7 linked regions of the Homo sapiens genome follow. The protein of the gene in region 1 purifies or fractionates together with the protein of each later gene. This does not show direct contact. Each region holds a gene or a part of one and is shown on either strand. Other genes may lie near its edges.

Region 1 (3,500 bases):
TTCCTTGGGTGACCCTCCAGGGTGGTCAGGTAGCATTCCCAGACCATAAGATGAAAACGTCGTCCATGGAGAGAGAGAGGAGGTGTTCGGGTCACAGGAGAGGCAGAGGGTACACAGCACTCCCCATCTGGAGTGTCCCACGGTCAGCCCGATGGTGCCTCAGATGTGAGTAACTTATGAAGGACTCTTGGCCGATTTTCTTAAATCAAACAGGATTCAAGCCAAGTACATCGTGTGTTAATGTCTCTGGGGAGTAGAATTCATTCAGAAATGGACATTTAGTGATTCTCTACTGCCAGTGGAATCTTAAGGCACCCAAAAATCTGAATACCCAAATCTCCCAGCTGGCTGGTCAAGTTTTAGAATGTTGAGCACTCTAAACTGGGAAGAGCCTGGTAGCCGTGGTACCAGGAACACTCACTCTTCCTGCTTGCTGCTTTCCTCATGCTGAGCTGGGCTGAGATCAAGACTCCTGGGGCACTTGCTTCCTCTACCCTTTGTCTGTGGCCAGGTGGGATTCCCACACAGTCAAAGGAAGCCCGTGTCCAACAGGGGCCATTTCCCTTAAATTTCTCTCATCACCCCCAGCTCTGCTGTGCCTCAGGTGGGCCGCTGCCACTCTTCCTTCACGTTCTTGATAATATCAGTGTCTTGAAAGGAAGCTTCTTGCAGGTAGGGAGGACGCTTTTCCCTGGAATAGCTGCTGTGCTCATATGAGTTTGTGCTGGAACATTCTAACCACCTTTCTGTGCCCTGGTTTGGGTTGAAGGGAAGGCGATTTAAATCAAAATAAATCTGCAAGGCAGTTCATCACTGGGACATTGTTTTTCCAAGCCGGGGAAGGCGAATGGGTTAGGGCAGCTTCCCACAGACGGCAACTCCGGGAGAATATCACCGGGGCCTTCCAGTCTGCCGCAGCCCCGGGAGCTTCTACCCAGGGCAGGTCAGTGTTGTCCGGTTTGATTTTAAGGAACCCCTGGCATTGCCAACAGTTGTGTTTTTCTTAAAGAAATCCTTGAGCCAGGTCCACATGGCTCTAGCTTTGCTGTGTTAAGGTGCCCGACGCCCTGTTGTCACATGTACACACGCCCAGCAAAGCTGGGCTGCTTCACCCACCAGCCACCATCCTCTCGTGCCAAGTCAAAGAAAGTGAAAGCCACCAGTGTCATGATATTTGCCTCGGGATTATTCTGTGGGTGACACGTGATGTCCTAGGAGAGGCCTAGGGGAGGTGCGACTCTGATGGGCTCTGAGTGTTTCCCCACCAATGCTGGGAGAGGGTCTTGTCTCCTGCTGGGTTCAAGGGATGGGATAGGAAGGGGCTGAGGTGCCAGGCAAAAGTCTTGTCTCCTGCAGGGTTTGAGGGATGGGACAGGAAGGGGCTGAGGTACCAGGTGAGGGTCTTGTCTCCTGCACTGGCTCCTGCTGGCATCATGAGCTGGCATCCGTGGCAGCCCCCGGAGCTGCAGGATTTGGGCTTCCGAGCAAAGGTGCTCCCCCGGCAAGGATGGGGCGGACCACAGGGCCGGCATTTCAGTGGTGGGTGAGTTGCAGGGCCCCTGGGGAAGACTGGGACGTGGCATTTCCATGAGCGTGGGCTACGGAGCCCGTAATTGTTAGTGTTTCAGGGTTTGCCAGTGGGGAAGCTTGAGGAACTCCCCCGTGATAAGCGCCGCCGTGAGAGAGGCCATCACCCCAGCTCTTCTTCCAGGGCCGAGCGCGGCAGGGAAGGAGGAGAGGGCAGGGCAGGAGAATAAATTTCATTTTACTGTAGAAATGGAAATTTGTGTCATGGCTTTAAAAATCTGGTTTTATGTGTGTGTTTAATGCCATTCATTTTAAATGTAGTATCATAAATCATTGCTTCAGAATCAAAGCTGTTTAATTACATTTCACCCATGAATAGTTATCTAATGCCAATAGAGAAAGAGTTAAAAAGGAGAACTACAGAGTAAATCAGAGGTTGAGATCTTCAGCACAAGCATAAAAAATCAATTTAAGATGAATTTTACTACTATAAAAATTCTTCAAATATCCCTTTAAGAGTGGGAACTGCTAGGAAAGCCAGCTCACATTTCAATTCCCTCAGCAGCATGAGAGAAGGACGCCCGCGTGGGCAGAGGCTTGGTGTGCACCCCGTTTTGCTCAGGGGTGATGAAGGAATCCTAACTCTGGAGTCTGAGCAGTTGCTGGGGGCACAGAACCTCCCAGCTCTCGTGGTAGAATGCCCCCTCTCCCACAGTGTACCCTCGCTTCCCTGAGAAACCCCATCTGCGGGGTGTGATGGCCAGCCAGACCCCGCTAGTCCTGAAGACTAACCCTGACCTTGAGGTGCATGCCTCGCCAACCAATCCCACATCCCAGTCTTACCCGGGGACCGTACAACTCACCCACCACTGAAACGGCAGCCCCTGTGCTCCACTCCATCCTCGCCGGGGGGGCACCTTTGCTTCGGAGCCCAAATCCTGCAGCCCCAGGTGCCACCACGGACGCCAGCTCATGACACCAGCAGAGGTAGTGCAGGAGACAAGACCCTCACCCAGCGCCTCAGCCCCTTCCTGTCCCATCCCTCGAACCCTGAAGGAGATGTCAGCTGAGCTCTTGCTGCAGGAGGTGCCAGGCCCAGGTGGCTTGATCAGGGGTTTTGTTTCCTCAGTTGAAGGTCGGGGCACATGGGCCCCATCACGCTTGCTCTTCCTGTCTGGGCAGTGGTGGTTGACAGCAGCCAGCTCTGCATCACTCAGGAGGGAGCCGGGGCTAACCCTCACTGCACAGGGCTTCCACCCCTCTGTTCGGCCGCCTTCCCCAGGGATCAGGACAGCAAAGTACATTACATATTTCTCCATCGTTCTTCTTAGATAGCATCAGTACACTGTTTATTCGGTTAGCAAAGAGCAGAGCAAGAATTGAATGACTGAAGGTGTGTCTCTGAAATTGAATAATATTTAAGCCAAGCAGAAGTTCTCCTTTCCGTGGCCAGACCTCACTAACGGGGAAGGAAATTGGGCAGTGAAAAGACAGCACTCCCATGCCCTAAGGAAACTCTGAGAGAGGCCACTTCGTTGCCTGCTCGGCAGGCCCATTCTCTGCCTGCAGAGTGAGCCCGGCTTCCCCCAGGGCCTCTTTGTGACGGGACCGACAAGGGTTTCCAGGCAGTGGCTTGGGCTGTGGAGACCTCAGCCTGTGTATTAAGGGTACTGGGCTGAATGAGGGCACTGTCTGCGTGAGTTCCCTTGGGCAGGGATCTGGGTAAGGCGGCAGTTTGGAGAAGACCGGGGCATGTTCTGTCTGGCCGCAGTGTCCACGGGGTCAGCGTAATTTAGCCGGCTCTGCTGGGCTTGGTTCACAGGTCCGACTGCTGGTCACAGTTATCCGTGGCTGTCGGTCATCCTAGTGAGCTTCCTTCTTTTTCCCTTCATTCTCTGGCTCCTTCCTTAAAACCGTCAGGATTTGTGTGCTTGGAAACCTCTGACCACCCTCCTGCTCCACCGTGAAAAACA
Region 2 (3,500 bases), on another chromosome or scaffold:
CAGGGGGCGCTGGGGTGTAGAAGTGATTCTCCTGCCTCAGCCTCCCAAGTAGCTGGGATTATAGGCACCCGCTTCCATGCCCGACTAATTTTGTATTTTTAGTAGACAGGGTTTCTCCATGTTGGCCAGGCTGGTCTCGAACTCCCAATCTCAGGTGATCTGCCCACTTCGGCCTCCCAAAGTGCTGGGATTACAGGCGTGAGCCACCGCGCCTGGCCTATTTTTGTTTTTGTTTTTGTTTTTTTTAGCAGAGACTAGGTTTCATCATGTTGGCCAGGCTGGTCTCCATCCTCACCTCAGGTGATCTGCCCACCTCAGCCTCTCAAAGTGCTGGGATTACAGGTGTGAGCCAGTGCACCTAGCCCACATGTCCTCTTTGTGTAGTGACACCGTCGTGAGGTGAGGGCCCACCCCAGTGACCTCATCTTCACTTGACCCCCTGCGAAGACATATTTCCAAATGAGGTTACATTCTGAGGTGCCGGGGGTTAGGGCTTCAACATCTTTTGGGAGAACATGGTTCAGCCCTTAATGAGATATATTGCCTTATTTTCCTGCTTTTCTCTATGTCTGGCCAGCTTGGTAATGGAAAAACAAAACAGGCTGGGTGTGGTGGCTCACGCCTCTAATCCCAGCACTTTGGGAGGATGAGGCGAGAGGATCGATGGAGCCCAGGAGTTCAAGACCAGCCAGGGCAACATAGCAAGACCCTGCCTCTATTAAAGAGAAAACAAGAAAAAATCCATTCTAAAATACAGAACAAACTCTTAGGACCCCCAGTGTATATTCCACAGCGTGGCGCTGATGCCCGGGCCATGGTACTCCTCCTCCCCTTCCCTGGGTGTCCCTCACCCTCTGCCCTGTCCCCAGCTCAGGCTTCTTCTGGCCTCAGTCTCCCCCAGGCTGGGCCCCAGCACCCTGCAAGGCCTCCTGCAGCCAGGCGCCCTCCAGCGCCCTCAGCATCCATCTCAGCCCAGCTCCACGCCGCCTCCTGCCTCTGCCCCCACCTGGCCGCCTGCTCACAGTGTCCCCAAATCTCTTCCTGTTTCCTGCCTAGGTACAGCCCGCAGACACTGGGCTCCATCCTTGGCCCCCAGTCCATCAGGGCCCCTGACTCTCGCTATCCCAGCCTTGGCTGCAGCTTAGTCCTTACTCCGGACTCCCTCCCCAGTCTCCAGCCACCCACACCCAGCCCCAGACCGTCTTTCTGCCCCCAGGGTTGCTCTCGACCCCCTAGGGTTGTTATAAGGATGTTGTGGTTGGTCTCAATCTCCGTTCTTCAGGCTTATGTGACGGGGACCCGCAGCCTGCTGCACACCCTGCCTCTCCTCCTCAGGTACAAACATTCCCTTTCCTGGGCCGTGTGGCCGGCCTTTGCTCCAACATCCGGGACTCTTCATTCCAGTCCAAGCAGACGGGCCGGCGGGACACCAAGGTTGTCAGCATGGTGGGCCGCGTGCAGATGGACATGCTGCAGGTATGGGCGGGAGGTGGGGTGTGTCCCTGTCCTTGGAAGGCCACTGCCCAGGCCCGCAGCCCACCAGCCCACCCACCCACCTAGGTGCTGCTGCGGGAGTACAAGCTCCGCTCCTACACGCTCAATGCCGTGAGCTTCCACTTCCTGGGCGAGCAGAAGGAGGACGTGCAGCACAGCATCATCACCGACCTGCAGGTGCCTGCTGCCTCCCTGACCTCTCACCCCAACCTCTGACCTCCACCTCACCCTTCCCCGGCCTCTGACCTCAACTTCACGCCCCCACGTCTGACCTCACTCTTTGACCTGCTGTTATGACCTGTGACCTTACCTGACGCCCACTTTTTCCTGACCTCTGACCCCAGATTTCTCTCCACTCCTGTGACCTCTGTCACTATGACCTTGTCTCTGCTTTCCTGGCCTGACCACAGGTCCACGGTGGCCTTCAGGCTGCTCCCTCCTCCTCCCTCTGGCCCTGTGGACTCCCTGGCCCCCAACCCTACCTCCATCCCCACCCAGACCCTGACGACTTGGAGGGCCCTCCTGCCCGCCTCACCTCCCAGGCCCTCCCCAGGCTACCTCACCCTGACCCCCACTTCCTTCTCCTGCTCCACCTCCCACCCCCAACCCCTGGTCCCTGACCCCATCCGTGCCCATCCCCAGAATGGGAACGACCAGACCCGCCGCCGCCTGGCTGTGTACTGCCTGAAGGATGCCTACCTGCCACTGCGGCTGCTGGAGCGGCTCATGGTGCTGGTGAACGCCGTGGAGATGGCGAGGGTCACTGGCGTGCCCCTCAGCTACCTGCTCAGTCGTGGCCAGCAGGTCAAGGTCGTATCCCAGCTGTTGCGGCAGGTCAGTAGCCGAGACTTGTCCTCGCCACCCCCCACCAGGCACGTCTGTGGCCCCCTCCAGGCAATGGCATCCTGGATGCACTTTTTCTCCCCACTCCCAATCCGCACGGCCCCACCTATACCCACTCCATTTCCCACCTTCTCCCCTCCCAGGCCATGCACGAGGGGCTGCTGATGCCCGTGGTGAAGTCAGAGGGCGGCGAGGACTACACGGGAGCCACTGTCATCGAGCCCCTCAAAGGGTGAGGCCCCAGGCTGGGTGCAGTTTTTACCTGTAATCTCTGGGAGGCTGAGGTGGGAGGATCACTTGAGCTCAGGAGTTTGAGACCAGCCAGGGCAACATAGCGAGGCCCCTGCTCCACAAAATTTTTTTATTTTTATTTATTTTTATTTTTATTTTTTTGAGACAGAGTCTCGCTCTGTCACCCAGGCTGGAGTGCAGTGGCGCAATCTCAGCTCACTGCAAGCTTTGCCTCCCGGGTTCACGCCATTCTCCTACCTCAGTCTCCACAGCAGCTGGGACTACAGGCGCCCACCACCACGCCTGGCTAATTTTTTTTTTTTTTTTTTTTTTTGCATTTTTAGTAGGGACGGGGTTTCACCGTGTTAGCCAGGATGGTCTCGATCTGACCTCGTGATCCACCTGCCTCGGCCTCCCAAAGTGCTGGGATTATAGGCGTGAGCCACCGTGCCCGGCCGAAAAAATTTTTAAAAATTAGCCAGGCGTGGTGGTGCATGCCTGTAATCCCAGCTACTTGGGAGGCTGAGCTGGGAGGATGATGAGCCCAGGAGGTGGAGGCTGCAGTGAGCGATGATTGCGCCACTGCCCTCCAGCCTGGGCGACAGAGCAACACCCCGGCCCTAAAATAAATTAATAGGCCAGGCACGGTGGCTCACCCCTGTAATCAATCCCAGCACTTTGGGAGGTCAAGGCAGGCGGATCACAAGTTCAGGAGATTGGGACCATCCTGGCTAACACGGTGAAACCCCGTCTCTACTAAAAATACAGAAATTAGCTGGGCATGGTGGCGGGCGCCTGCAGTGCCAGCTACTCGGGAGGCTGAGGCAGAAGAATCGCTTGAACCCGGGAGGTGGAGGTTGCAGTGAGCTGAGATTGCGCCACTGCACTCCAGCCTGGGTGACAAAGCGAGACTCCGTCTCAAAAAAAATAAA
Region 3 (3,500 bases), on another chromosome or scaffold:
AATATGACTTGAAACATATAAGGGTTTTACTGAAATTTGGGAACTCCTATTATAGAGAGATTTATAGTAAGATTTGACCTACTTGGTCTGATTGTATGAGAGATTCTGGACTAAGTTATACGTAGTGCTGAACTCCACAGATGAGCAAGTTGATATCCAGTCATAGAAATTCTGTGGGCAGAAAGGGGAAAGAACTAGTCTTTGGTCCTCACAAACCAAATTACACATAAGTTGATTTTGCACAGAGATGTTTTGATCATGATACATGGTTCCATGGTTTAAGTCACCGCCTTTCCTCGACCTTCTGTATACATTAACAAGCCAGCCATTACTGTCCTCGTCTTTATTCCCTACTGAAACTTGACCAATACTGTTCTCCTTTTTTGTTGTTATGCCAAGGAAAGACAGTATTTATATGGGAATTTATATAGCTGGTCTGTACCTAGTATTAGCAAGATCCTCCTTTCTCACTATGTAACTTTCGTACTTTTATTTCCTCAGACTACCATCTGCCATGATTTATTTTACACTGCTGTTACCTACTTTTACTAACTTTTTTGGTTATTTTTGTTTTCCTTATTCTTTACATTTCCCACAGTCTTTGCCTTCCCATTTTAATCCTTTGCTCCTCCATTCATTCACTGCTGCATTCCCTTACATATTTCCCCTTTGCTTTGTCTTTTTCCAGCCTCCCCCACTGGCAGGATTGCCATGAGTTGTGGAGTAAGAAACGGCGACGTCAGCGACAAAGTGGTGTTGTAGTCGAAGAGCCACCTCCATCCAAAACTTCTCGAAAAGAAACTACCTCAGGGACAAGTACTGAGCCTGTGAAGAACAGCAGCCCAGCACCACCTCAGCCTGCTCCTGGCAAGGTGGAGTCTGGGGCTGGGGATGCAATAGGTCAGTGCCAGAATGGGGCCTTTGTGCTTTTGCTAAGCGTATTTGGCAGGTTTTGAAGGTCAAGTGTAAGGAGTTTGTGTGTGTGTCTGTTTTTTAGTTTTTGGTCCAGTGAACCATTAGGAAAGAGGTTAATGTCCTCATTATGGTGAGAAGGAGATTAACCAAGTTTCGTACATATGGTCCAGAAAGTCTACAATAGATCATTTTCCTTTCCTGAAATATGTACGGAACACTGTATCTCAATTAGATGTGTGGCATAAATCAGTGAATTAGGTAAGCCAAATTTAATTTAAGGTTAGTTCACCCATGACTTTATGAAACACATAATTTGGAGCCTTGTTTATATTAGATTTGATAAGACCTTCATAGAATCTAGTAGTGTTAAATTACAATTGCTAAATGTTGTTCTATAGACTGTTATTTTGATCTAAATGTATCTGAAACTATGTCATATTGAACTGTTATAACAAAGTAGTTCTCCTGTGTTATGACCAATTCTTCGGGACAAAAGATACTCTTTTTCTGGTTCACTTTCCCCTCTTCACTTATAGCAGTGGCTTTTAATACTGGCTGTATATTAGAATCATCCTGGAAGCTTTAAAAACAAATATGCCTATACGATTGCCTATCTCTAGGGATGGGTCCTGAGGCATCTGAATAGGAGAGATTTTTAAATCTCTCTTAGTAATTCTGATGTATAATAAAGGATTGAAAATCACAGAACTTGAAAAATACAGATAAAGTGAAGTCACTTTTATGCACAATCCAGAGATGTTTTAGTTATTAGTGCCTGTATTTCTTAAGCGAAAGCATAAAGAGTAACAAAATGTGTCATGACATTTTGAGGCATGAAAAAATGAGACATTTAAAATGAAATTTCATTTTTTGGATATTGTAAGTTGCTGTTGCCAGTTGAAGAAGGCAAAGGGCCCTTGGCCTATCTCATCGTCTTATATTGGCTTCACTGTCTTTCAACAGGCCTTGCTGACATCACACAACAGCTGAATCAAAGTGAATTGGCAGTGTTATTAAACCTGCTGCAGAGCCAAACCGACCTGAGCATCCCTCAAATGGCACAGCTGCTTAACATCCACTCCAACCCAGAGATGCAGCAGCAGCTGGAAGCCCTGAACCAATCCATCAGTGCCCTGACGGAAGCTACTTCCCAGCAGCAGGACTCAGAGACCATGGCCCCAGAGGAGTCTTTGAAGGAAGCACCCTCTGCCCCAGTGATCCTGCCTTCAGCAGAACAGACGACCCTTGAAGCTTCAAGCACACCAGCTGACATGCAGAATATATTGGCAGTTCTCTTGAGTCAGCTGATGAAAACCCAAGAGCCAGCAGGCAGTCTGGAGGAAAACAACAGTGACAAGAACAGTGGGCCACAGGGGCCCCGAAGAACTCCCACAATGCCACAGGAGGAGGCAGCAGGTAAACAGACCGGTCATGAATCTCATTGAGCTCAGGTGCTGTTGATACCCTCTTAAAAATCTCTTAACATTTTTTTTCCCCCACATCAATGGCCTTGGTTTCAGTTATTCTGTAACCTAGTCTACAGGAGAACATAGCACCAAGTAATGTATTTCTTGCTTGGCTTCTTTTATTTAAGTCTCAAAGCTTCCCAAAGCACCTTTCCTATACTGATTGTTTTTCCACCTCCTAGGAGATAGGTAAGTAAAGCCCCTGTGTTCTAACCAAGGAAACCACAACCATAGCTAGTGATGCATCTTGAACCACACATCTTGAACTGTGTGTGGTGGCCAACTAGTCCTAGCACTTGGAAATCTGACTTCCAAACAAACCATTATCAGACTATACTTCTTTACCTCTAGTGGAGTGGATGCTGAATGCCAGTCTTTCCTGGAAGATACAATCAAGAAAACCCTAATAAAATATCATTGTTAATTTCCTGAAGAATAATTTGGGAATATTTCTAAGTAGATAATTAACACTATACATTTCTTTTCCCAAAAATAATAGTGTATAAGAACAATTCCTTTAAATCTGTTTCTGATAGAAGCAATTGAATGGACCCCAGATCAGGAAGTGCGTGTATTATAAAGAAAAAAAAGGAAAATGGGGATAAGTTATACGTTAATCTCACATGACCATAGCGTGCAATTTATTAGAGGGAAAAGCAGTTTAAGTTCTTTAATTCTGATTCACACTGTATTTGCAAAATCTTTACTTATGTAAAAATGTTTTTAACTCCTCGGAAATTCTCACTGTCCATGAAGACCCCATGAATTGGGGAATAAGAAGAGGCTCGAGGGCTGAAGAGATATACTAATCTTCAACTTTAGGGTCCTACATTCACATTTCATATGAGGTGGTGCAGAAAGTATATGTTTTAAGGCCTGGCCTATGGCCAGAAGTTGTTGGATTTACTTTTCAGAGGAAAGTGTAGAGATGCCGTAACTAATTATTGCAGTCACCCCTGGATTATTCAGCTGATGCCTCTACAGTGGCTCACTTGTTCTTGTTTCTCCCCTGCTATCTCTATTTGGCCATTTCACTGTTAATTAGCACTTCCACCAGAGGGCAGACTGTATAAACCAGAGAAGGTGACAGCCTATTAATTGGGCTGCTGTTTTACTATT
Region 4 (3,500 bases), on another chromosome or scaffold:
TAGCAGAATTTTGAATTGTAGTGGTAAAGTGGGCATTATTGCTTTGTGTTTGATCTTCTGGGGAAAACATTTAGTCTTTCACCATTAAGTCTGATCTTAGCTGTAGGTTTTTTGTAGGTGCTTTTTATCACGTTGTGGAAGTTCTCTTTGATTTCTCATTTGCTGAGAGGTTTTATCAGGGTTGGATGTTGGATATTTTTCAAATGCTTTTTTACTGCATATATTGAAATAGGTGGTTTTTCATTTTTAGTCTGCCAATGTGGTGAATGACATTGATTTTCAATTATGAAATTAGACTTACATTCCTGGGATAAACTGAACTTGGTCACAATATACTATTCTAATTATATTTTGTTGGATTTGATTTGCTAAAATTTTGTTGAGAATTTTTGAACTTATGTTCATGGGATAGTTGTAGTTTTCTTGTAATGTTTTGGTGTTGGAATCAGTAATGTAGCTTCAGAATGATTTCTGAAGTATTCTGTTCAGTTTTCTGAAAGAATTTATACAGGATTGACATTTTATACCCAACTTAAATTTTTGGTAGAATTCATCTGAGCCTGCACTTGTCTTTGTAGGAAGATTTTTGACTACAAATTTACTTTGTTTAATAGATTAGAGATATTTGTGTTACTTATTTTTTTCTTTTTTTTTTTTTTTGAGATGGAGTCTCGGTCTGTTGCCCAGGCTGGAGTGCAGTGGTGCGATCTCAGCTCACTGCAAGCTCTGCCTCCTGGGTTCACACCATTCTCCTGCCCCAGCGTCCCAGGTAGCTGGGACTACAGGTGCCCACCACCATGCCCGGCTAATTTTTTGTATTTTTAGTAGAGACAGGGTTTCACCGTGTTAACCAGGATGGTCTCAATTTCCTGACCTCGTGATCTGCTCGCCTCGGCCTCCCAAAGTTCTGGGATTACAAGCATGAGCCGCCACACCCGGCCACTTATTTTTTTCTTGAGTGACTGTTTTCTACTTGCAGTTCTATTAGTTTTTGTTTCATGTATTCTGACAATCAGTTTATGTGAATACATGTTTTATGGATTAAAATATTAGATTATTATTATATCCTCTAAATGAATTGGCTTGTTATCGTTATGAAATGGCCCCCTTTATCCTTAGTAATTTTTTTTTGTTCTAAAATGTCCTTTGGTATTGATGCAGCCAGTCCAGCTTTATTGATTAAGGGGTTAGCATGGTATGTGTTTTTCAATACTATTACTTTCCCTTATTTATATTTAATGTGAATTTCTTATAGGCAGCATATAAATGGGTCTTGCTGTTTAATCAGACAGTTCGTGTCTTTGAGTTGAATTATTGAAGCCAGGCATGGTGGCTCACATCTGTAATCCCAGCACTTTGGGAGGCCAAGGCATGTGGATCACTTGAGGCCAGGAGTTCAAAACCAGCCTGGCCAACATGGCGAAACTGTCTCTACTAAAAATACAAAAAAATAGCCAGGCGTGGTGGCATGTGCCTGTAGTCCCAGCTGCTTGGGGGGCTGAGCCACAAGAATTGCTTGAACCCAGGGGGCGGAGGTTGCAGTGAGCTGAGATTGTGCCACTGCACTCCATCCTGGGTGACAGAGTGAGACTCTATCTCAAAAAAAAAAAAAAAAAGAAAAGAAAATTAATTGAGTTACTGAGATTATTTACGTTTAATGATTATTGATAATGGTGGGTTTACTTATTTATTTTTTGACTGATAGCATACCTGATTTATTTATTTTTTTCACATTTCTGTTTTTTATTTTAAATTTTTTTTTCCTTTTCTATGTTTAGATGTTTATTTTTAATTTTTTTAAATTTTTCCATAAGTTATTGGTGTACAAGTGGTATTTGGTTACATGAGCAAGTTTTTTTGTTTGTTTGTTTTTTGAGACGGAGTCTTGCTTTGTCACCCTGGCTGGAGTGCAGTAGTGCTATCTCAGCTCACTGCAATCTCCACCTTCTGGGATCAAGCCATCCTCCTTCCTCAGCCTCCCAAGTAGCTGAACTACAGGCATGTGCCACCATGCCCGGCTACTTTTTGCATTTTTAGTAGAGACAGGGTTTCACCACGTTGGCCAGGTTGGTCTTGAACTCCTGAACTCAAGTAATCTGCCCACCTCGGCCTCCCAAAGTGTTGGGATTACAGGCGTGAGCCACTGTGCCAGTTTAGTGGTGATTTGTGAGATTTTGGTGCACCTATCACCCGAGCAATATACGCTACACCATATTTGTAGTATTTCATCCCTTGCCCCTCTTTCATTCTTCCCCCCAAGTACCCGGAGTCCATTGTATCATTCTTATGCTTTTGCATCCTCATAACTTAGTCCTGCATATCAGTGATAACATACGATGTTTGGTTTTCCATTCCTGAGTTACCTCACTTAGAATAATAGTCTCCAGTCTCATCCAGGTCACTGCAAATGCTGTTAATCCATTCCTTTTTATGGCTGCATAGTATTCCATCCTGTATATACCACAGTTTCTTTATCTACTCGTTGATTGATGGGCATTTGGGTTGGTTCCATGATTTTGCAGTTGTGAATTGTGCTGCTATAAAATTATGTGTGAAAGTATCTTTTTTGTATAATGACTTCTTTTCCTCTGGGTAGATACCCAGTAGTGGGATTGCTTGATCAAATGGTAGTTCTACTTTTAGTTCTTTAAGGAATCTCCACGCTGTTTTCCATAGTGGCTATACTAGTTTGCTTTCCCACCAGGACATAGAAGTGTTCCTTGTTCACCACATCCATGCCAACATTGTTTTTTTTTTGAGATGGAGTTTCGCTCTTGTTGCCCAGGCTGGAGTGCAATGGCGCAATCTCGGCTCACTGCAACCTCTGCCTCCCGGGTTCAAGTGATTCTCCTGCCTCAGCCTCCCGAGTAGCTGGGATTACAGGCATGCGCCACCATACCCAGCTAATTTTGTATTTTTAGTAGAGACGTGGTTTCTCCATGTTAGTCAGGCTGGTCTCAAACTCCCGACCTCGGGTGATCCGCCCATCTCGGCCTCCCAAAGTGCTGGGATTACAGGTGTGAGCCACTGTGCCCGGCTTTTTTTCTTTTTTTAAGTCAAAGGCTCACTCTGTTGCCCAGGCTGGGGTGCAGTGGCACAATCTTGGCTCACTGCAACCTCCGCTTCCCAGGTTCAAGTGATTCTCCTGCTTCAGCCTCCTTAAGTAGCTGGGATTACAGGTGCCTGCCACCATGCCCGACTAATTTTTGTATTTTTAGTAGACATGGGGTTTCACCATGTTGGCCAGGCTGGTCTTGAACTCCTGACCTCAGGTGATCTGCCCACCTCAACCTCCGGAAGTGCTGGGATTACAGGCATGAGCAACCGTGCCTGGCTGCCAACATCTACTGTTTTTTGATTTTTTGATTATGGCCATTCTTGCAGGAGTAAGGTGGTATCACATTGTGGTTTTGCTTTGCATTTCCCTGATCATTAGTGATGTTGAGCATTTTTTCATGTTTGTTGGCCATTTGTGTATCTTCTTTTGATAATTGTCTATT
Region 5 (3,500 bases), on another chromosome or scaffold:
TTCCATTTGTTTGTGTCATCTGATTTCTTTTAGCAGTGTTTTGTAGTTTTCCTTGTAGAGGTCTTTTACTTCCTTAGTTAGGTATATTCCTAGGTTTTGCAGCTATTGTAAAAGGGGTTGAGTTGTTGATTTGATTTGCAGCTTGTTTGCTGTTGCTGTATAGCAGTACTACTGATTTATGTACATTGATTTTGTATCCTGAAACCTAACAGAATTCATTTATCAGATCTAGGAGCTTTTTGGATGAGTTTTTAGGGTTTTCTAGGTATACAATCATATCATTTACTAACAGTGACAGGTTGACTTCCTCTTTACCAATTTGGATGCCTTTTAATTTCTCTTTTCTGACTGACTGTGGCTGGCTAGGGCTTCCACTACTATGTTGAATAGAAGTGGTGAAAGTGGGCATCCTTGTCTTTTTCCAGTTCTCATGGGGAATGCTTTCAACTTTTCCCCGTTCAGTATAACGTTGGCTGTGGGTTTGTCATGGATGGCTTTTATTACCTTCAAGTATGTTCCTTCTATGCTGATTTTGCTGAGTGTTTTCATCATAAAGGGATGCTGGATTTTGTCAGACGTTTTTTCTGCTTCTATTGAAGTGATCATGTGTTTTCGTTTGTTTTTCTCTTAGAGTTTCGCTCTTGTTGCCCAGGCTGGGGTGCAGTGGTACCATCTCAGCTCACTGCAACCTCCACCACCCAGGTTCAAGGGATTCTCCTGCCTCAGCCTCCCAAGTAGCTGAGATACCACATCTGGCTAATTTTTGTATTTTTAGATGGGGTTTCACCATGTTGGCCAGGCTGGTCTCAAACTCCTGACCTCAAGTGATCTGCCCTCCTCGGCCTCCCAAAGTGCTGGGATTACAGGCATGAGCCACCGCACCCGGCCTGATTTTTGTTTTTAATTCTGTTTATATGGTGTATCACATGTATTGACTTGTGTATATTAAACTTTCCCTGCATCCCTGGTTTGAAATCCATTTGATCATGGTAGATTATCTTTTTGATATACTGTTGGATTTGGTTAGCTAGTATTTTGTTGAGGATTTTTGCATCTATGTTCATCAGGGATATTGGTCTGTAGTTTTCTTTTTTGTCATGTCCTTTCCTGGTTTTGGTATTAGAGTGATACTGGCTTCATAGGATGATTTAGGGAGTATTCCCTCTTTCTCTTTTGGAATGGTTTCAGTAAGATTGGTACCAGTTCTTCTTTGAATGTCTGATAGAATTCAGCAGTGAATCCATCTGGTCCTGGACTTTTTCTTCTTGGCAATTTTTTTATTACCATTTCAATCTAAGTGCTTGTTATTGGTCTGTTCAGAGTTCTTATTTCTTCCTGGTTTAATCTAGGAGGTTGTATATTTCCAGGAATTTATCCATCTCCTCTAGGTTTTCTAGTTTGTGAGCACAAATGTGTTCATAGTAGCCTTGAATGATCTTTTGTATTTCTGTGGTATTCGTTGTTAATATTTCCTGTTTCATTTCTAATTGAACTTATTTGGATCTTCTCTCTTCTTTTCTTGGTTAATCTCACTAATGGGCTATCAATTTTGTTTATCTTTTCAAAGAACCAGCTTTTTGTTTCATTTATCTTTTGTATTTTGTTGTTGTTGTTTCATTTTTATTAAGTTCTACTCTGGTCTTTGTTATATCTTTCCTCCTCCTGGGTTTGGGTTTGGTTTGTTCTTATTTCTCTAGTTCTTGAGGTGTGACCTTAGATTGTCAATTTGTGCTCTTTCAGACTTTTTGATGTAGGCACTTAATGCTGTGAACTTTCCTCTTAGCACTGCTTTTGCTGTATCTTAGAGGTTTTGTTAGGTTGTGTCACTTTTTTCATTCAGTTCAAAGAATTTTTTTAATTTCCAGCTTGATTTTGATTTCATTATTGACCCAAAGATCATTCAGGAGCGGATTATTTAATGTTGCATGGTTCTAAGAATTCCCTTTGGAGTTGACTTCCAATTTTATTCCACTATGGTCTGAGAGAGTACTTGATATAATTTTGATTTTCTTAAATTTATTGAGACTTGTTTTGTGGCCTATCATATGGTCTCTATCTTGGAGAATGTTCCATGAATGTTCTGATGAATAGAATGTATATTCTGCAGTTGTTGGGTAGAATGTTCTGTAAATACCTGTTAAGTCCATTTGTTCTAGGGTATAAGTCCATTGTTTCTATGTTGACTTACTGTATTGAAGTCCCCCACTATGAGATGAGATTCTATTTTTGTGTATTTCAAGGTTTTGCTCTAAGATTTAGAACTCCTTTTAGCAGTTTTTGTAAACTATGCTGGCTTGGTAGTGGCAAATTCTCTCAGCGTTTGAAAAAGACTTTCATCTTTTCTTCATTTATGAAGCTTAGTTTCACTGGATACAAAATTCTTGGCTGATAATTATTTTGTCAGCTAATAATTATTTAATAAGGCTAAAGATAAGACCTTTATCCCCTCTAGCTTGTAGAGTATCTGCTGTTAATCTGATAGGTTTTTCCTTTACAGGTTACCTGATGCTTTTGCCTCCCAGCTCTTAAGATTTTTTCCTTCATCTTGACTTTAGATAGCCTGATGACTGTGTGTCTAGGTGATGATCTTTTTGTGATGAATTTCCTGGGTGTTCTTTGAGCTTCTTGTATTTGGATGTCTAGATCTCGAGCAAGGCCAGAGAAGTTTTTATTCTTTTGCCTTTGTCTTTGTTGAATTGGGTTAATTCAAGAGCCTTGTCTTTGAGCTCCAAAATTCTTTCTTCTACTTGTTTGGTTCTATTGTTAAAACTTTCCAGTGTATTTTGCATTTCTCTAAATGTGTCTTTCATTTCCAGAAGTCATGATTGTTTTTTATTTATGATATCTATTTCTCTGGAGATTTTTTTCGTCTACATCCTGTTTTGTTTTATTTTTAAATTTAAGTTGGTTTTCATCTTTCTCTGGTGCTTCCTTGAGTAGCTTAATAATTGACCTTCTAAATTCTTTTCTGGCAATTCAAAGATTTATTATTGGTTTGGATCCATTGCTGGTAAGCTAGTATAATCTTTTAGGGGTGGTTATAGAACCTTGTTTTGTCATATTACCTGAATTGTTTTTCTGGTTCCTTCTCGTTTGGGTGGACTATGTCAGAAGAAAGATCTGGGACTCAATGTGTGCTGTTTAAATTCTTTTGTCCCACAGAGTGATCCCTTGGTGTGGTGCTCTCCCCCTTCCCTAGGGGTGGGGCTTTCTGAGAGCTGGACTGCAGTGATTGTTATTGCTCTTCTGGGTCGAGCCACCCAGCAGAGCTACTGGGTTCTAGGCTGGTACTGGAGAGTGTCTGCTAAGAGTCCTGTGATGTGATCTGTCTTCAGGTCTGTATGCCATGGATACTAGCACCTGCTCTAATGGAGGTGGTAGGAAAGGAGTGAAGTGGACTGTGTGAGAGTACTTGGTTGTAGTTTTATTTAGTGTACTGGTTGTCTTGAATGCTAGTTATACTAGCACTGAAGTTATTACATGGACAGACTCAGGACCTC
Region 6 (3,500 bases), on another chromosome or scaffold:
TGGAATGCATGCTTTTTTAAAAAAGTATCCTTTATAGGTTCAAAAATGCTTTAAAAAAATAGAGATGGGGTCTTGCTACCTTGTTGACCAGGCTGGTCTTGAACTTGTGGCCTCAAGCCATCCTCCCACTTCAACCTCCCAAAGTGCTGGGATTACAGGTGTGAGCCACTGCATCTGGCCCAAAGGTGCTTTTGAAGTTCAGGATTAAAGAAATACTTATTTATCTTTAGTATTTTAAATTGACATGTAGTTTATTCAGAGAGTTAAATGTGGAATAATTGAATTTACTCCATAATAAATTTATGGTTGCAAGTGGAACTACAGATTACTGACTTAAAAAAAAACTATTGAAGTTGCAGGTTCAAAAAACCCCCAAAACCTAGTGACTTAGTTTTTGCTAGATCCAGAGAAGCTCTTAGCTGTAGGTTATGGATGAGAGGATTCAATATGGTTAAGATCTCAATTCTTCCCAAAGTATTCAATAGGTTCAGTATAATCTCAGTCAAAATCTAAGTTTGTTGTAGAAATTGACAGACTGACTTTAAAATTTATATGGAAATGTAAAGTACTGAGACCAGTCTAAGAATAGTTTTGAAAAAGAACAAGTTGGGGGACTTAGAGTATCTGATTTCAAGGCTAACTGTAACATGACCGTAATCAAGATAATGTGATATTGGAATAAAGAGAGTCATACAGATCAGTGGAATGAATAGAAGAGAGTCTAGGAATAGATCCACACATATATGACCCACTGATTTCTGATAAAGCTGCCAAGAAGGCAACTCAGTGGGGGAAATGATAGTCTTTTCAACTAATGGTGCTTGAACAACTGGATAGCCACATACAGTAATATGAGCCTTGACACTTACCTCACATCCTACAAAGACATTAATTCAAAATGGATTATAGACCTAAATGTAAGAGTTTAACTGTGAAACTTCTATAAGAAAACAAAATTGTAGTGACCTTGGGTTCAGCAAAAAATTTTTAGATAGCGTACAAAAGGCACCAACTATAAAAAAATCAGTAAGTTGGACTTTATCAAAATGAAAAACTATTGCTTCCCAGAGAATGTTTAAGAAAATAAAAACCCAAGCCACAAATGGGGGAAAATAACTGCAATACGTAAATGAAAGATGTGTAACATGAATATATAAAAGAACTCTAACAGCACAATAATAATGAGAAAAATACCTAATTTAAAATCCAACAAATGACTTGTAACTTGTCAAATATTTCAATAGGCACTCACCTTCATGCCAAATAGCACATTAAAAGATGCTCAAAATCATGAGTCATTAAGGAAATGCAAATTAAAACCAAAATGAGATCTCAGTATGTTCCCACTAGAAAGGTTAAAATTAATAAGACTGACCATACCAAGTGTTGGTGAGGAAGTGGAGCACCTGGAACTCTCATATGCTATGGTGAGGAATGTAAAATGGTAAATCATGTTGGAAAATAGTTTGGCAGTTTCTTAAACTATCAAACATATGCCTACTATATAACTTACTGTTTAGTATTTACTAAAAGAAATGAAATCATTCATACAAAAGCTTGTCCACGAGTGTTCATAGCATCTTTATTTGTAATAACCCCCAAAGTGGAAACAACTCAAATGTCAACAGATGAATGTTTAAACAATTGTGGTTTATCCATACAATGGAATATTACTCAGCAATAAAAAAGATGAACTATTACACATGTAACAACAGGAATGAATCTCAGAATAATTATGCTGAGTGAAAGAAACTAGACAAAAAAGTACGGTTTCATTTATGCAAAATTCTAGAAATGAAAAGGAGTCTATAGTGACAGGAAGCAGATCAGTGGGTGCCTAAAAATGGAGAGTGGAGGTAAGGGAGGTGGATTACAAAGGAGGCAGAAACTTTTAGGGGAGATGAATATTTGTGTTATTCTGATTGTGGCAATGATTTCACAGTTATATACATATGTCAAAGCTTATTAAATAGTTCACTTTAAGTATGTGCATGTTACTATATGACAATTATACCTGAATAAAGCTGTGGGGAAAAAAACCAATCAGCGCTTATCCATATTTTACTGAAGGTGTTAAGTAAGATGCTAGTAAATGACAGAATTTCAGCTGAGCCAAGTCTGACTCTTGAAAACTACATTTCCTCTTTAGTGCAGAAAATATTTATGAGAATGGGAGCGTAGAAAAAATGAAATCACAATAAAACAAATTAGTTTCTGATTTTTGGACATGGTCTCATTTTCTAAATTATCACTGTCAGTTTTTTTTCTGCTGCTTCTAGAACATGTTTATTTTGCATAATTTCTCTGGCTTCCAAAATCTGAAGAATTGCCTCTGTTTAAACTCTATTTTCTTCTTTCGTGTACTTGCTCTTGATTTGCTGACCTTCTAAATGGGGACCAGCATCTAATGCTTAATGCAGAGTGCTGGGGACATGGGGAGGCAGGAGGAGCTGGAGGCTGCGTCATGGAAAGACCTTGGCGCCCCCTCAGGAAGGAAGGACTGGCTTGGCAGGATCCCAGGCTGTTTTCCTGGTTCAGCCCTCCCGAAGACATTGTGTTCTCTGCAGCCCTGGAGGGCCTCTTTCTCTCAATTTCTCAGTGAGGTACCTGTTTTGTAATCAGTCCTGTCAGGTGAAGCAGCCATGTTACTACTGGACAATCATGGATTATCTTTTCCCTTCCTTCCTGGATCCAGGTGTCTGAATTTATACCACCAAAATTCTTCCAGATTTTCTATCTAGTGGTTCATTCTCTTTTGTACTTTGTAGTGCCGTTGTTTATTCTCATGATTGATTTTTTTCTGAGCCAATTGGAAGGAATGTCTAACACTGACTGATCAACCCACAGTGTTTAAGAGGAAAAATATATTTTAGAATCTTGAGGGAGTTTTATTTCAGTGTATGTGAATTGTATTGGCTATGTAGCGTCTTCATTTTCATTGTAAGAAGAATTTTGCTACAGTGGGACCGGCTGCTTCTCATCACAAACAGGTTGTGGCTCAGATATTTTCCCCTTTGGAGAGCATTTTCCTGGTCATATTATTATCTTGTTGTCTTTCGTTGCACTCATTGCTCTCTGAGATCATTTTGTTAATGAATTTGCTTATTATACTTTCCTCCTTTAGATTACAAATGGCTTGAGAGCAGGGACCCACCTCTCTTATTCACTGTCCTAACCCTGGGACAATGTCTCATATGTAGTAAACATTAAATATTTGTTAAATGAAATTTTATGTGATTGGGGGACAAGTAAAGTGTAAGTACTTTGGGAGCATCTTTCCATCTTTCTAAAAGAAAGAAATGAAAATAGTTGAGGAGTTACTGGATGAACAGTATTCCTCTGTTAAATCAATCAATGACATACCAATATGTGCTTGAAAGACTGGGCCTGGGCCGGGCGCGGTGGCTCACGCCTGTAATCCCAGCACTTTGGGAGGCCGAGGCGGGTGGATCATGAGGTCAGGAGATCGAGACCATCCTGGCTAACAAGGTGAAACCCCG
Region 7 (3,500 bases), on another chromosome or scaffold:
TTTCACTGGTGTATGCGCATGTGCGCGCGTGTGTGTGTGTGTGTGTGTGTGTGTGTGTGTGTCTGTGTGTGTGTGTGTGTGTGTGTGTGAAATATCTCTTTGGTGCCCTTGCGTTACTGGTGCCCTAAACATGCATTTAGTCTGCCTCTTGGGAAATCAGCATTAACATTCAGGAACAATTTAGAGGTATTTAAATAAGGGATGATAAGATTAGATGCAGGTTTTGAAAGGTAACTCCTGACTTCTAGATAATGATGCAAAGTTACAAGGATAATGCAAGGATGAGGTTAGAAATGGAGCAGAGAGACCAGATGCTGTTGCAGTGGTCCAGGGGAGGGATGATAGGAACCAGAAATAGGGCAATATAGATATGAGATTAGAACTGAAAACTGAGTAGTTTCACTAGACCTGAGAGTCCATTTGGACATGGGGGGAAAGAGTTGAAGATGATGCTAGGATTTCTTCTTTGGCAGCTTCCCTTCTTTAGCAAGGGAAGGCCAGATTATTTTTATTGAGCACTTCCAGTGAGCCAGGTATTTTGCTAGACAGCGAAGTTGTCACGAGTTCTCATTTAACATTTTGAAATAATTTCAAACCTAATGAGAAATCTCAAGAAAAGTACAACAAAGAGCTCCTGAATCGCCTTAAACTAATTTTTAACATTGTACTAGCTATGTACCGTGTGTATACACAGCTCAAGATGAGCCTGGAACACCTCGTGCTTGGCTCAGTAAGGCCTTTTCCAGATGCCCCAAGTGGTCACCTTGGAATTGTGTTTAGCCCTTTCCCTTTTTCTACTGTATCTAATTGGATCCTCAAATTTCAGTGAAACAACCTCATCATCTCTCATTTCTGGTCCTACATTTTAATCCTTATTTCTCCATTTCAGGGGAATGCACCATTTCTAATTTCATTTGGCTTTTTTCCTGAATTATTTGAGAGCAAGTTGCAGACATGATCCCTATCACTACTAAATATTTTAGTGTGTATTTAGCAAAACAGGACAATCTCCTACATAACCGCCAAATCAGGAAATCAACGTTGATATAACACTACCTTCAGGTCGAACCTAGATGCCATTCAAATTTTTCCAACTATCCCAGTAGTATCTCTCTTTTCTTTTTGGTCCAGCATCCAATTCAGGTTCACACATTGCATTTAATTGTCACATCTTTTAGTTTCCATCAGTTTGGAATGATTCCTCAATATTTCCCTGTCCTTTATGACCTTGACAGTTTTAATGAGCAGAGTCCTTTTTTTCTGTTACATGTTTTCCTCAACTTAAGTTCATCCAGTGGTTCCTCATGTGCAGACCGAGTGCATTGTTGGCAGGAATGCCATAGAAATAATGTCGTGATATTCTTAGTACATCACTAAGAGACGTGCTGTATAGTCCTGCTACTAGCGATGTTTAACTTTGAACACCTGTTAAATTCAAGTCTGCTGGGTTTCTCTACTGTGAAGTTATCGTTTTTTTCCTTTTGTAATTGGGAATTCTTATGTGAGAAGATATCTGGGAGTGTGTCAATAGAGCTGAAGGCTGTAACCACGAGCCTTCAGGTCTGATGATTGCTACCTGAATCAGCCACAACTGTGAAAGTTGTCACCTACATTTATTAGTTCATATTCTACTGAAAGAAGATTTTCTCCTTCTTCTCCATACATTTATTTATTCATTCATTTATATCAATATATACTCCTGGATTTGTTTCTGTTTAGTGGTTTATATTAGTTACTGTCATTTTAAAATTTCATTTTGTTGGTCAAATTGTCCCAAATTTGGCCTTTAAGTTGGCTCCTCTATCTCCTTGACCTGTCCCCCTCCTTGGTGTATTTCCTTACTTTCTGGCCTAACAAGATGTTCCAGATGATCTTAATACTCTCCTATCCCAGCTCTGAAATCATTTATTTTTCCAAGGAATCCTGATTTTATTTTACTTTTTTAAGTAGAGATGCTATTTAGGAACTGAGATCCGAGTGTTCAGTGTGTTCATTTCTGCTGGCATGTCATCACTTTTAGGGGGATAGAGCTAGGAAATACATATATGTATACACACATCTGAATCTGTTTCTATGCCTATGTACAGGTATTTTATAAGTTCACACTGATACAACCAATTCCAATCTAACATCTCAGGATTCGTCTAGCCTTTTCCCTTTCTGTATTTGTAAATCTCTTCTCCAGCAGTGATAAATTGGTTCCTATTATCTCCTCAGTGTATTTACTTATTTGCTCAATCCCCTTGTATGTGCCAGTCTTCCGACCCCGCATTAGTTGTCTCCTTTCTCCTTGCTTGCCGCCTCTGAGGCCTGTGGCATGGGGTCCTCAGAGCTTGCTGTCAGGTCCATGTAGGAAAGAGAACTTCTCATTTAATCTTTTTCCCCTCATTTAATCAGGACAGAAATTTGTTAGAAAGGTGCTATTCCCAGTTTTAAAAGGAGAACAGAGCTGAAATTCAAAAAGGTCTGTGTCTTTAGGCATGTTACTGTGTAAATAGCTGAGTAAATATTTTGCATTCAGATTCGTCTGATACTGAAGCATCTTTTCTCTCCTGTACTGCATAGCCTCTGAGTATCTGTGGAATCCAAAGTGGCAGGATTTAAGGTTGTATAGATGGTAGCTGAAGCAATGGGTGGGACTGTCACTGCTTATGAAGTATATATAAAGTTAGGAAGAGGCACACTGACAGAGCTCCTAACTACCATCACTGAAAGATTAAGGGCTCTCCGAAATCAAGAAGCCAGTGAAGAAGACTGAAAGAAAGGTTGTGAGAGAGGAGTGTGGTTGTGTGTTAGATGATGGTGAAGTAAGGAATTTCATGAAGCTGCCATGTTGCTGAGAGAAAAAGAGAAGACCAAGAGGCTTTGAATTTGACTGTTGGAAAGTTATTGATAATCTCAGCTAGTTGGTTTTCCAGTGTGTTCAGGCGAGCTGCCTGTATCAGAATTATGGAGATACTAATGAAAAATATGAACTCCCCAGGTCTCATCTCAGACCTTATAGATTCTTAAAAGGGGGAGTGGGGAGCCAGGAAGTGGTAGCCTGGGAAAATCTGCTGAAATGCTAAGGTTCTTCTGAGGTGTACTAGTTTGAGGTTTGTTGCTTTAGCAGAAGAGTTATAGTGGAAGAGTGTAATAAACTAAATTGAGGAAACCAAGTGTACAATGAATATAGATGAGACAGCTCTTCGAGAAGTTTGCCATAGAGGTAAAAGATCTCAGGTCATGGAAGAATAGGGGACAGCATCAAGAAAAATACCTTTGCGTTTCAAGGGTTACATACACCTTAACATTTGTTGGGATTAAGAGAAGGAAACTGTAATGGTTATTTTAAAGTTGGGTAAGCAAAACTAATTAGCAACACCTACTATCAAAAAAATGCCCTGAGTGAACTTTGATATGTATCTGGGATAGCTGCCTGCTCCCATTTTAAATGCCATCTTTTGGTAGGTCTTTGGAGTAATCCAAGGGTCATTGTTTATTTTGTTTTTAGTTAAATT

The links.
Region 2: the proteins of MGMT (region 1) and POLD1 purify together in Homo sapiens (affinity purification with western blotting, with the first as the bait; one study listed by BioGRID). This does not show direct contact.
Region 3: the proteins of MGMT (region 1) and CDK12 purify together in Homo sapiens (affinity purification with mass spectrometry, with the first as the bait; one study listed by BioGRID). This does not show direct contact.
Region 4: the proteins of MGMT (region 1) and DDX24 purify together in Homo sapiens (affinity purification with mass spectrometry, with the first as the bait; one study listed by BioGRID). This does not show direct contact.
Region 5: the proteins of MGMT (region 1) and DTL purify together in Homo sapiens (affinity purification with western blotting, with the first as the bait; one study listed by BioGRID). This does not show direct contact.
Region 6: the proteins of MGMT (region 1) and PRKCH purify together in Homo sapiens (affinity purification with mass spectrometry, with the first as the bait; one study listed by BioGRID). This does not show direct contact.
Region 7: the proteins of MGMT (region 1) and PTPN4 purify together in Homo sapiens (affinity purification with mass spectrometry, with the first as the bait; one study listed by BioGRID). This does not show direct contact.

Annotation. Positions count from the first base shown.
Region 1 is NC_000010.11:129,701,241-129,704,740, forward strand, and holds part of MGMT (methylated-DNA--protein-cysteine methyltransferase), read left to right. Parts: intron 1-3,500. UniProt on the Homo sapiens protein: Involved in the cellular defense against the biological effects of O6-methylguanine (O6-MeG) and O4-methylthymine (O4-MeT) in DNA. Repairs the methylated nucleobase in DNA by stoichiometrically transferring the methyl group to a cysteine residue in the enzyme.
Region 2 is NC_000019.10:50,404,847-50,408,346, forward strand, and holds part of POLD1 (DNA polymerase delta catalytic subunit), read left to right. Parts: intron 1-1,335; coding exon 1,336-1,476; intron 1,477-1,560; coding exon 1,561-1,671; intron 1,672-2,136; coding exon 2,137-2,328; intron 2,329-2,480; coding exon 2,481-2,569; intron 2,570-3,500. UniProt on the Homo sapiens protein: As the catalytic component of the trimeric (Pol-delta3 complex) and tetrameric DNA polymerase delta complexes (Pol-delta4 complex), plays a crucial role in high fidelity genome replication, including in lagging strand synthesis, and repair.
Region 3 is NC_000017.11:39,523,986-39,527,485, forward strand, and holds part of CDK12 (cyclin-dependent kinase 12), read left to right. Parts: intron 1-688; coding exon 689-900; intron 901-1,878; coding exon 1,879-2,331; intron 2,332-3,500. UniProt on the Homo sapiens protein: Cyclin-dependent kinase that phosphorylates the C-terminal domain (CTD) of the large subunit of RNA polymerase II (POLR2A), thereby acting as a key regulator of transcription elongation.
Region 4 is NC_000014.9:94,071,203-94,074,702, reverse strand, and holds part of DDX24 (ATP-dependent RNA helicase DDX24), read left to right. Parts: intron 1-3,500. UniProt on the Homo sapiens protein: ATP-dependent RNA helicase that plays a role in various aspects of RNA metabolism including pre-mRNA splicing and is thereby involved in different biological processes such as cell cycle regulation or innate immunity.
Region 5 is NC_000001.11:212,094,748-212,098,247, forward strand, and holds part of DTL (denticleless protein homolog), read left to right. Parts: intron 1-3,500. UniProt on the Homo sapiens protein: Substrate-specific adapter of a DCX (DDB1-CUL4-X-box) E3 ubiquitin-protein ligase complex required for cell cycle control, DNA damage response and translesion DNA synthesis.
Region 6 is NC_000014.9:61,324,579-61,328,078, forward strand, and holds part of PRKCH (protein kinase C eta type), read left to right. Parts: intron 1-3,500. UniProt on the Homo sapiens protein: Calcium-independent, phospholipid- and diacylglycerol (DAG)-dependent serine/threonine-protein kinase that is involved in the regulation of cell differentiation in keratinocytes and pre-B cell receptor, mediates regulation of epithelial tight junction integrity and foam cell formation, and is required for glioblastoma proliferation and apoptosis prevention in MCF-7 cells.
Region 7 is NC_000002.12:119,766,422-119,769,921, forward strand, and holds part of PTPN4 (tyrosine-protein phosphatase non-receptor type 4), read left to right. Parts: intron 1-3,500. UniProt on the Homo sapiens protein: Phosphatase that plays a role in immunity, learning, synaptic plasticity or cell homeostasis. Regulates neuronal cell homeostasis by protecting neurons against apoptosis.